Regions from separate parts of the Homo sapiens genome. Here region 2 is linked to region 1. The links come from fine-mapping of genetic effects on gene expression. A gene starts in region 1. The other region holds a variant in brackets. All regions are shown on one strand. Distances are from middle to middle.

Region 1 (5,365 bases):
CTTTTCTTTATAAATTACCCTATCTCAGGTAGTTTTTTATAGCAATGTGAAAATGGACTAATACATATCCCTAATGAATTTGAGGTTCTAGCTAGATTTCTAGGCCCAGGGTTCTCCTGCCTGCCTATAACGAGAATTGATCTTGGCTTGGCATGGGATGAGATGGGCTTCTCAAAGCTCCCCAGGGGATTCCAATGTGCAACTAGGGCTGAGATCCATTTTGCCTGGTGCCAAGGACAGTAAAAATGAGTAAGACCTGGTCTCACCTACTAAATCCTCAGTTTAAAAATATAATAGGAGATGGATTTGAAAATTACCTGGAAAGCCACTCTTATGTAAGTGGTAGGAATGGGGGAATGCAGCAGCACCTAAAACTCAAATAAACTCAAAGGGGGAGATGGGGGTCCCTGCTTCACCACCAAGAGTAATCCAACTGCAGGAGAGATCACCAGGGAAGAAATGGGGGCAAAGAACAAGGGTTGTGTTGGGCAGGCCACTTTATTAGGAAAGACAGAGGGCCCAAGGGACAGGAAAATTCATGGCCAGCAAATATGGGGGCCAGGAGGAGAGGCAAACAGACATGAGTGAACAGAGGGGGTCCCCTCGAGACCAGAGAGTGCATCCTCACCAGTCTTGGCTCCTGGTGCCTGGCGCCAGGCTTGCCACACTGAGGGGCTCTCTGGCTACAGCACAGGCAAATACCTGAATAATCTGCACTGAAGATAGGAAAACCATTTTCCTCTGCCAGTGAAGTAATCGCCATCACCGCCAGAACTAAGTCCTCATCTCCAACCAGCCTCTGAACTAAAACTAACTCCAAACCCACAAATTACTTAATTTAATCCTTGTTACTATCTTAAGAAGAAACTGAGGGAAAAAGAGGTTAATTTTCCCAAGGTAACAGGAAGTGGGATCAATTAGATAAACTGTTCCCATTCTCTTGCAGAACACTTCTAAGTTCAGGGATGCTGTGGGGGAAGCACCTTCCCAAACTCTCACTTACCCCAGTGCTGCTGGGCCCGGTTCTCCAGGAAGGGTCTCATTTGGATGAGGCGGGTGGCATAAATGTGGGCATACTGCCGGCTAAAGCTGCGCTCTCCTAGCCGGAAGGGTTGTGAGGAGTTGGTGTAGGTTGCCACTGGCACCCGGGCAAAGGTGGCATTGTTGGCTGATGGTGGGGACAGTAGAGTGTGGGCCCTCTGGGCAGCCTGCTCAGAAAACATGGCCACACTCCTGACTTGCTTGGTCCACACAGCTTCGCCCAGGCCAAGGAGGTTCACTGCGAAAACACAAAGGCATTCCTGCTGCCCCTGTCCATCCCCCAAAGCAGCAGCTCTCCTGGTGTCTCACTGCACCCAAAGGATACTGGGAAAAGAAGGAGAACAGCTGTAGTTGACACCAGACATTGTGTCCACTTGGAAATTTATCGTGCCTGGATACCGATGTCTCACCCTGTAGCGGTCATCCAAAAAGAGAAAAGGAAAGCTAGGAGTGTTTGTCCCATCTGGAGTTCTTCCCGAACCCTAGACTCAGGTGTCCTGTTCCATCTGGACAACTACCAGGGTCTCAATCAAGTTCAGTTTGCCCCAAATGGAATTCCCGATCTGCCTCCATCCAGCTCTCCGGCACCTGTCTCATTTCCAGACAAGAGGTCTGCCTTATTAAATAAAACTTCTGTGAAATAATAAGCCTATTATTAAATAATAATAGAACTAAACCAAAACCAAAACATAAATCAGTCACTGCTCTGTTCAAAACTCTCCAAAGTGTCCTCATTTCATTGAATAAGGCCCCAAGTCCTTACAACTGCCTATGAGATCTGCTCCACTGGTCCTCTCCCCTCCTGGTTCCCACTCCTCCACCTTGGATCCCTCCCCACAGCAAGGGGCCTCTGAACTCTTGCTTGCCCCTCTCCCGTATACTTATAGAGCTCACTTGCCCATCTCCTTCAAGTTCTTACATCTTTACTCAAATGTTACCTTGTGCCCTGCCCATCTGATTTACAACTGCAACTCTCCCCAGTACTTCAACTGTTATTGTTGTTTACAACATTTACCTTCTAACAAACTGTATATTTTAAATGTATTGTCTGCCTGCTCCAACTAGACCATAAGCTCCAGGAGAGCTGAGATTTTTGTGTCTTATGCCACTAGCCACCTAGGGCTACGAAGTACAGGAGATGTGGTGAGTCCAACTGTGATGTTTGGGTTGGACACACAATGGATTTCTAAGAATAGTACAAAGAATATCCCAATAATTTTTTCACATACAATTGAAATAATAGTTTGAATATATTTATGGATTTACTCCAATTGATTTGTTTCGTTTTACTTTTTTCGTACACCTACTAGAAAGTTAAAAAATTCCCTAGCGGCTTGCAATCTATCTCCACGGGACAGCACTGGCCTGGGACACAGGCTCCGCACACGTGTCTAACGAGTGACTCGTTAGGAGCTTTTGGCTCGAACGTGCTTGATGGCGGCAGCAGCCAGGCCGCGCTACTCGGGATGGGGCCGAGAGCGCCCTGGGGGCTGTCCCAGTCACGGCGGGTGCCCCGGCTCGGATCCACGCGGCAGCTGCGGGACGTCCGCCAAGACACCAGCCCACCGACCCAGGAGCCCGGCCTCGCGGCCTGGAACTGCCACCCCCAGCTGACCCCGTTTCCCTGGACCCCACTCACCGCGCGGCGCGCCGCATCCCGCCAATCCCCGCGCGCCTGCCCCGCCCATCGCCGCAACTCGCTAATCCCCGCGCGGCTTCCCCGCCCATCGCCTAATCTCACCAATCGCTGCCCTCCTCGCCCCGTCCGTCACCAGGCGCCTCATCCCGCCGACCACTGTGCGCCCAGTCCCTGGGACGCCCAGAGAACGCGGAGCCACACCCTCGGTTTCCTGGGCAACGCGGGGCGGGGGCTCGCAGGCCGGCGCCGCGGGTCTTTGGTTGGCGGCCGCGCGTGCAGGGGTTGGGCTGACGGGGGGTGTCGGCCTCCAGTGGGCTGACCGCGTCACCCCGTCAGGCCCTGCCCAAACCTCCCAGTGGTCGTCACCCCGCCAGACCTCCCAGTGGTCGGCCGCCAGCCTCCTTGGTGAAGCCCCCAGCGTCCCAGCTTTCCCCGCAGAGCTGCCCACTTGTAGCGATGGCGACACGCGAGGAGGATCCCAACAGAAAGAAGGCCCAAGGCCCACTAACTTGGCCGGGGAGAAGTAACTCTTCCTGAAGGGATGGCGCGGGGTCTCGGGGTTCCTCCCGTCCTGCCAGCGTCTGCGTCCGGGAAACGCATTGGCGGTTTCGGGGTCCTCCCTAGCTTGCCCACAGCTGCACACCAGCTTCCAGCCCAACACTCCCCAATCTCCAGTGTCCTCGTTGTCCCCGTTACTCATACTCGTTCTTACCACCACGTCTTTCTGAGTGCTGTCTCCCACTTTGGGAATACTTTTTTTTTTTTTTTTCCATCTCCACTAATTTATAGAATTCCTCACCCCATCAAGAGACGCTTCCCCACTAAGCTTCCCGGGCTCTTCCCGCCGCGCGCTGATTCTCCCAGGCGTCCTCTAGCGCTACTGTTCTGCTACTTCCCTGGGCCTGTTTCCTAAGTCCAGGTCTTGTCTCCACAACGAGTGGATATTAACACTCGTTAATTATTACTTAATATTTTAATTTTTGTTTTTGTTTGTTTGTTTGAGGCAGCGTCTTGCTCTGTGGCCCAGGCTGGAGTGCAGTGGTGCGATCTCGGCTCACTGCAGCCTCGAACTCCCAGGCTCCAGTGATTCTCCCGCCTCAGCCTCCCGAGTAGCTGGGACAACAGGCGCGCAGCACCACGCCTGGCTACTTTAAGTTTGTGTGTGTGTGTGTGTGTGTGCGTGTGTGTGTAGAGACAGGGTCTCCCAATGGTGCCCAGGCTAGTGTGGAACTCCTGGGCTCAAGTGATCCTCCCACCTCAGCCTCCCAAAGTGCTGGGATTACAGGCATGAGCCACCACGCCCAGCCTTATATTTTAATTTAAAATGTGATATTTTAATTATTAAACGCCTTTGCAACTGCTTTGAGGTTATGACACATTAATTCATCTGCTCCTCAAATAATCCTTTGGGTCAGACACAGTGGTTCACGCCTGTATCCCAACACTTTGGGAGGCCGAGGTGGGAGGATCGCTTAAGCCCAGGAGGCTGAGGTTGCAGTGACCTAAGATTGCACCACTGCACTTCAGCCTGAGCGACAGAGCCAGACGCTGTCTCAAAGCAAGCAAACAAACAAAAAACCTTTGAAGCATGAACTATTATTTTTCTCCCACTTTACACATGAGGAAATTGAGGCAGGGAGGGCAAGAGAGATCATGTAGCTAGTGAGTAATAGCTGGGATTCACACAGAGACAGCAGGACTCTTGCTGGTAAGGTTGTACTGTTCTGAGCCTTCACCTGAAACATTGTACATGTATTGGGCAAACAAATAATTTTACTTTTTCCTTTCCAATTCAGATGCTTTTTATTTCTTTTTTCTTACCTGATTACTCTGGCTAGAACTTCCCATACTATGTTGAGTAGAAGTGGTGAAAGTGGGCATCTTTGTCTTATTCCGGATCTTAAAGGGGAAGCTTTCAGTCTTTAGCATTAAATATGTTGCTAGCTGTGAGTTTGGGGATTTGGCCTATGGATTTTATTATTTGAGGTAGTTTCCTCCTATTCTTAGTTTGTTGAGCTTTTTCTTCTTTCAAAAGAGTGTTGAATTTTGTCAAATACTTTTTTGACATCAATTGAGATGACCGTGTGGGTTTTTTTTCTGTTAATGTGGTCTATTACATTTATTGATTTTTATGTTGAACCATTCTAGCATTTCAGGAACAAATTCCACTTGGTGGAATTACAAACCAAAGTTACAATAATACTAGCTTTTAATGTATTCTCTTTTATATAATTAATTTTACTTTAATTGCACCTGAATTTTCCTTTAGCATAGACCGTTATTTCTCCCCTCCAAGTACTAACCAGGCCCAACTCTGCTTAGCTTCTGAGATTGGACACATTCAGGGTGGTACGGCCATAGATGAGATCTTTATTCGTTTATTCGGCTTTTTTTTTTGAGACAGGGTATCACTCTGTCACCCAGGCTGGAGTGCGGTGGCACAATCTCGGCTCACTGCAACCTCCGCCTCCTGGGTTCAGGTGATTCTCTTGCCTCAGCCTCCCAAGTAGCTGGGATTACAGGCATGTGCCACCACACCTGGCTAATTTTTGTATTTTTCGTAGAGATGGGGTTCCACCATATTAGCCAGGCTGGTCTCCAACTCCTCAGGTGATCCGCCCATCTCAGCCTCCCAAAGTGCTGAGATTACAGGTGTGAGCCACTATGCCTGGCCTCTTTATTCAG
Region 2 (5,365 bases), 110 kb after region 1:
GGGGGGACAAAGTGGGGGTGTAGGGGATGGGGGGCATGAGGGGACCAAGGTGGGTGTGGGGGACAGAGGGGGGTGTGGAAGACAGAGGGGGTGTGGGGGACAGAAGGGGTCATGGGGGATGGGGGTGCGTGAGGGGACCAAGGTGGATGTGGGGGACAGAGGGAGTGTGGAGGACAGAGGGGGATGTGGGGGACAGAGAGAGGTGCAGGGGACAGAGGAGGGTGCAGGGGACAGAGGAGGGTGCAGGGGACAGAGGGGGATGTGGGGGACAGAGGGGAAGTGGAAGACAGAGGGGGTGTGGGGGACAGAAGGCGGTGTGGGGAACAGAGGGGGAGGTGGGGGACAGAGGAGAGTATGGGGGACAGAGGGGGTGTGGGGGACAGAAGGGGGTGTGGAAGACAGGAGGTGTGGGGGACAGACGGAGTGTGGGGGACAGAGGGAGAGTCTGGGGGACAGAGGGGGTGTGGGGGACAGGAGGGGGTGTGGAAGACAGAGGAAGTGTGGGGGACAGAAGGGGGTATGGGGGGCAGGGGGTGGAGGACAGAGGAGGGTGTGGGGGACAGAGGGGGATATGGGGGACAGAGGGAGTGTAGGGGACAGAGGAGGGTCTGGGGGGCAGAGGGAGAGTGTGGGGGACAGGGGGTGTGGGGGACAGAGGGAGTGTGGGGGACAGAGGAGGGTCTGGAGGACAGAGGGAGAGTGTAGGGAACAGAGGGGGTGTGGGGGACAGAAAAGGGCGTGAAGGGACCAAGGTGGGTGTGGGGGACAGAGGGGTATATGGGGGACAGAGGAGGGTGTGGGGGACAGAGGGAGAGTCTGGGGGACAGAGGAGGGTGTGGGGGACAGAGGGAGAATGTGAGGGGCAGAGCAGAGTTTGGGGAGGAAAATGGAAATGAGGGAAAGAGGGGAATTTGGGGGACAGAGGGGGATGTAGGGATAGAGCGTGGACTTAGGGGGACGTGGAGAGGTTGTAGGCTGACCGAGGGGGATATGGGGGGACGGAGGGAGACAGGGGGACAGAGGGTGCTGCTGCGGACAGCGTGGTGCGTGGAGAGGAGGCTGCAGGAGTGAAGGGCAGATGCTCTGGCTGTCGGGTGGCGTGGGCTGAAGCTGCTGGGGGCAGAGGGCACCCTCCAGGGAGAGGCTGCTGGCCAGCAAGAAGCTGTCAGGTAAGTGGCCCTTGAGGAACGCTGGACGGGGTTACAGGGAGAGGAGGGAGTCACGGGCGTTACAGAGGAGGCCTGGCCTGGCCCCATGAGGACAGCCCAGGTCAGCAGAGGCCAGGCTTATGATTCTCCGTACTATCCCCTTGTTGGTGAGCTCCAGAGACCCTGGTCGGGGTTCCAGTTTTGGCACCTTCCTCAGCCTCCTAGACTGAGGGAGGGTGCTCAGGGGTTGGGGCCACATCAGGAACCAGGGTGGCCCTGAGTGCAGCTCCTGGGCACCATGGGCAGGGCCCCTGGGTGGGTGTGAAGTCTGTGGGGCTGGGACAGTGATCAGCAGAGAGGGCCTAGGGGCATGGGGGGCCTCGGAGGGGCCAGGGCTGCCCAGGGCTGGGACAGACATTTTGGAGAGGGGCCTGGGGCTGGACAGCGAGCGGGGAGTGGCAGTGGGAGCAGGAGCCGTGGAGGGGTCTGGGCCCCTTAGGGAGAAGCCAGGAGCTGCCCTGCTGGTTAGCATGGGAGCCCACAGGAAGCCCCGCCAGGGCAGGACTCCAGGCTGCGGCGCCGGGGCAGGGTAGCTGGGCCGTGCATGCAGGTGGGAAGCTGCTGAGCGCCGGCCATTCGCAGGGAGCTGTCCGGCAGCAGAGGCGGCAGGCCTGGGGGCCACTACTTACACGGGGAGGACAGGGGGCCTAGGAGAGCCGGAGACAGGCAGGGCGGGGGCCCCGCTGAGAGGGGGCCCTCGGCTTCTGGGGTTCCTGAACCCCTTCTCACAGAGTTCAGGATGTCAGAGATCCTGGGGGCTGGGGTGGAACAGATGAGACGTGAACATGAGGCAGACAGACACACGAGGCGGCGGCAAGGCGGAGGAGGCCAGTGGGAGGGGTCCCGTGTTCTAGACCCCTTGGGCCCTGGGATCAGGCCCTGAATCAGAGCCTGCCTCAATAGCAGGGAGCCCCCCCGCCCGCAAGCTGAGGTGGAGTGAGGCCTGCACCGACCCTGAAGACTGGAATTGAGGCCCGAGCCTCCAGGGCCTCCCATCCTGCCCAGTGGCCTTGAGCAGG[A/G]AAGTGGTCCAGGGCCCTCCTCACAAAGAGGTGGGGCTCGATGGGCTGGGGCCACCCTGGAAAGCCCCAGTGAGGGATTGTGGGGTGATGAGGCTGGAGCCAGGGTCCACGCTCAGCCTGCCCTCGGCTCTGGAGTGGCCCCTCTAGGGGGTTGCCAGCCCTCCAACATGACCCCCACAGCAGCAGGACCCAGGCTACTTACATGGGGCTGGCAGGGGGCTAAAGGGAGCCGGAGATGGGCAGGGCAGGGGCCCCTCGGCTTCTGGGGCTCCCGAGCCCCTCCTCACTGAGCTCAGGATGTCGGGGACCCTGGGGGCTGAGGCGGAACAGGTGAGGCAGGCAGGTGGGTGGTGCGCCCGCAGGAAAAGAAGGCAACTGGAGAAGGACAGGGGGAGGCCAGGAGGGAGGGAGGGGGTGACAGCTGGATACCTGGGGCTCCTGGGGTGGAGGTGGGGTGGCCACCTGTGGGGGTCCTGGGCCTGTGGTGGCCGCAGCAGGTATGTGAAGGCTGAAGGAGCCAACACGGGACCGGTGCCAGAGCCAGAGCCAGCAGAGGCCAGGGCAGCACAGGCCAGTGCAGGCTGGCGCAGAGTCAGAGGCCACCCTGCCACCCTAGTGCTGTGACCACCCCTGGCCAGAGCCAGCAGAGGCCAGGCGCACGGAGAGGGAGTGACAGTCATCGTAGGGGCATGATGGCCACTGAGCCTGCCTGGACTCTGTACCAGCCTCAGGGCAGGCTGGCAAGGCTTCTTTCTGCACGGGGTGGGGTGGGGGGTGTCTGCCTCCACCTCGAGAGGCTGCTCGGGCTCAGATCTGAGCCACAGCTGCTGGCTTCTGGCTGTCTTCTCTTCTCCCCTGCAGGATCCAGGCTGGGCCCCCCTCCCAGGTCCCCTCCCTCACTGCTCAGCACCCCACTCGGCTGAGGGTGATGGAGAACCTCTGGACAGCCTTCATGCTGTTGCCTTTGGGGCCTGTTCCAGACTGCAGGGGAATCACACAAACACCCACTCTCCGGCATCCAGGGCCCAAAGTCCTGTGCTCATCTCTGCTCAGGGACAGTGTCATAGCTGGGTAGGCCGGGCAGGAGCAAGGCTATGCTTTGGACAGGTGAGAAGTTTTCTCCCCTAAACTGGCAGAGTGGCTGACCCTTTTTGGGCACCAGGGTAGCCCTGAGAACAGCATAAGGCTTATTAGGTGACCGTGTGAGCGATGAGGGTCAGGAGGCCCCATGTGGGTGGTCTGGAGGCGGCAGAATCCATGGAGCATGCCCCAGTGCCTGGTGCCCTGGGGGCCTCTTGGGGAACACACAAGACATTGGCCTGGGTGAGCAAGGGAGGGGGCCCTGGAATCTGTGGTGCAGAAACCCACCGCAGCAGGACACTCCTGGCTAAGCAAAGGCAAACACGGAAACACTCACCCAGCTGCCCGGCCACTTGGCAAGTGCATGCTGGACAGAAACGCAAGCTTAAGGAGCTTTAAGACAAGGACAGCATCTTGGAACAAATTCTACCCATGGGCCTGTTTCCCCGTGAGGGTCCTGGTGTGGAGAACCTGCCTCCATGCAAAGCCGTGGCTTCCTCACTTGGATGCGGTGACCGAGACTGCCCAGCTGTCGGTCATCTCTGCCATGCTTCTCCGCTCTGGGCAGGCCTGACACCCAGGCTTGGAGCAGGATTACAGCTACAGGGTCCCTGAGCCCCTCAACACATGCATAAACTAGGCGTCGCAGGAGAGTTGACCCTGCCCAAGTCCCACCCACCTCAAAGAGCAACCCAGCAATGCCAAGGCCGCTGGGGGGGCAAGGACTCAAGTGCAGGTACCTTTAGCGTCTTCATCCTCTATGGTGGTATTGGCACTGTCAGAAGACTCCTGAGGAAACACGGGAGGCAGCGGGTCAGGATGCGGCCAAGGATAGGTGGGACGTGGCTGAGGGCAGGTGGACAGGGCTGGGCCTGTGTCAGGACCAGCCCAGGCTCTGAAGCTGATCTCTGCCTCGGCTGCTTCCACGGGGCTTAAAGGCCAGGGGCTCAGGGGACATGCCCTCTGGCGGCTGCAGGGCCCCAGCTCTGTGGACCTCATGCGGCAGTGACCGGAGAAGACACCCAGTTCTGTGCTGGTCCCTGGGAGGGCGCCCCTCACCAGGGTGCATTCTCACGGCAGCCAGCACAGGCTGGCACGGAGTCCGAGGCCGGCCCTGCCACCCTAGTGCTGTGGCCACCCTGCATCCCCAACACATGAGGGCTCCACTTCTCCCAGCAAGATGAGCCTGGCAGAGAGACTGGTATGCTCAGCTGACTCTTTAACAAGAGAGGAAAATGGGCTTTTTGAAATTCCAAGACGTAAAACACAATGGGACTGGCTGGTTCCAATGAAGCAGCAGCCGGTGTCATCCAAAATACAGGGTGAGGCGTTCCCAGGAGCTCTGCAGATCCGCACAGGGCTCCAGGAACCTTGGCCTGGCCCCAGGCAGAGCATTCCTGTCGCCCACATTCCCTCAGGGCACCTGCCCCTCTGGGACTGGACGTCCAGTCAGGCCCCGGCCTCACCTCTCAGGTGGCCTTAGAGGGCAGAGGTGGCCCCAGACTCTCCCACCCTGCTCCAGGGCTGCTGCCCTTCAAAAGACCATCCCCCAGGTCCCCAGGAGGCCTGCTCTGCTCCTCAGAGGAAACATCTTACAAGGTCCCTGGGGGACCGCCCCCTGGTCTGGACACTGCCTGGACACTGCTTGGAGGCCCTAGACCAGAACTACAGGTCTTTAGGTGCAGGCTCAGAGTTCACCACAGCCCAGAAGGTTGTTTAGGAGTCCTGCAGAGAGCATGACCCACCCCAGACACACACGGGTCCCAGGGGCACCCATCCCCAGCTGCCAGATGGGAAGAATGCCCAGGCCCTGGTGCCTAGCACCATGGGTGCCCCTTGGACCCCCTGGTCCCTGCCATGGAGAAAGATGTCTTCTGATGATGGGCTGGGTGGTGGCACTGGCCAGAAGGAAGTGGGGGGTCCCCACAGAGGCACTCTGGGGCTCTGTAAGGAGCCCAGGCCTAGGTGGGAGCTGGGCTGGAGGGCCGTGTTGGGTGTAGTGGCGCTGTTTTGGAAGTCCTGGAAATGGCTTGGCTGCTGGCCCCATCCCTCCCACCA

Evidence for each region.
Region 2: its variant is fine-mapped to the expression of POLD2 in testis (GTEx, PIP 0.91).

What each region holds. Positions count from the first base shown.
Region 1 is chr7:44,120,831-44,126,195 of GRCh38, forward strand. It overlaps POLD2 (DNA polymerase delta 2, accessory subunit), which reads right to left and starts at 2,718. Exons shown (of 11, transcript NM_006230.4): 1 at 2,681-2,718; 2 at 1,004-1,279. The coding sequence starts at 1,223. It also overlaps the pseudogene RNA5SP230. RefSeq lists a silencer at 2,404-3,113 and enhancers at 2,900-3,804, 3,324-3,383.
Region 2 is chr7:44,226,959-44,232,323 of GRCh38, forward strand. CAMK2B (calcium/calmodulin dependent protein kinase II beta) reads right to left here. Exons shown (of 24, transcript NM_001220.5): 17 at 4,048-4,096; 18 at 2,430-2,543; 19 at 1,838-1,966. Among named protein-coding and RNA genes, the nearest start is that of YKT6, 29 kb to the left of the region's middle. The variant A/G (reference allele first, on the strand shown) is at 2,228.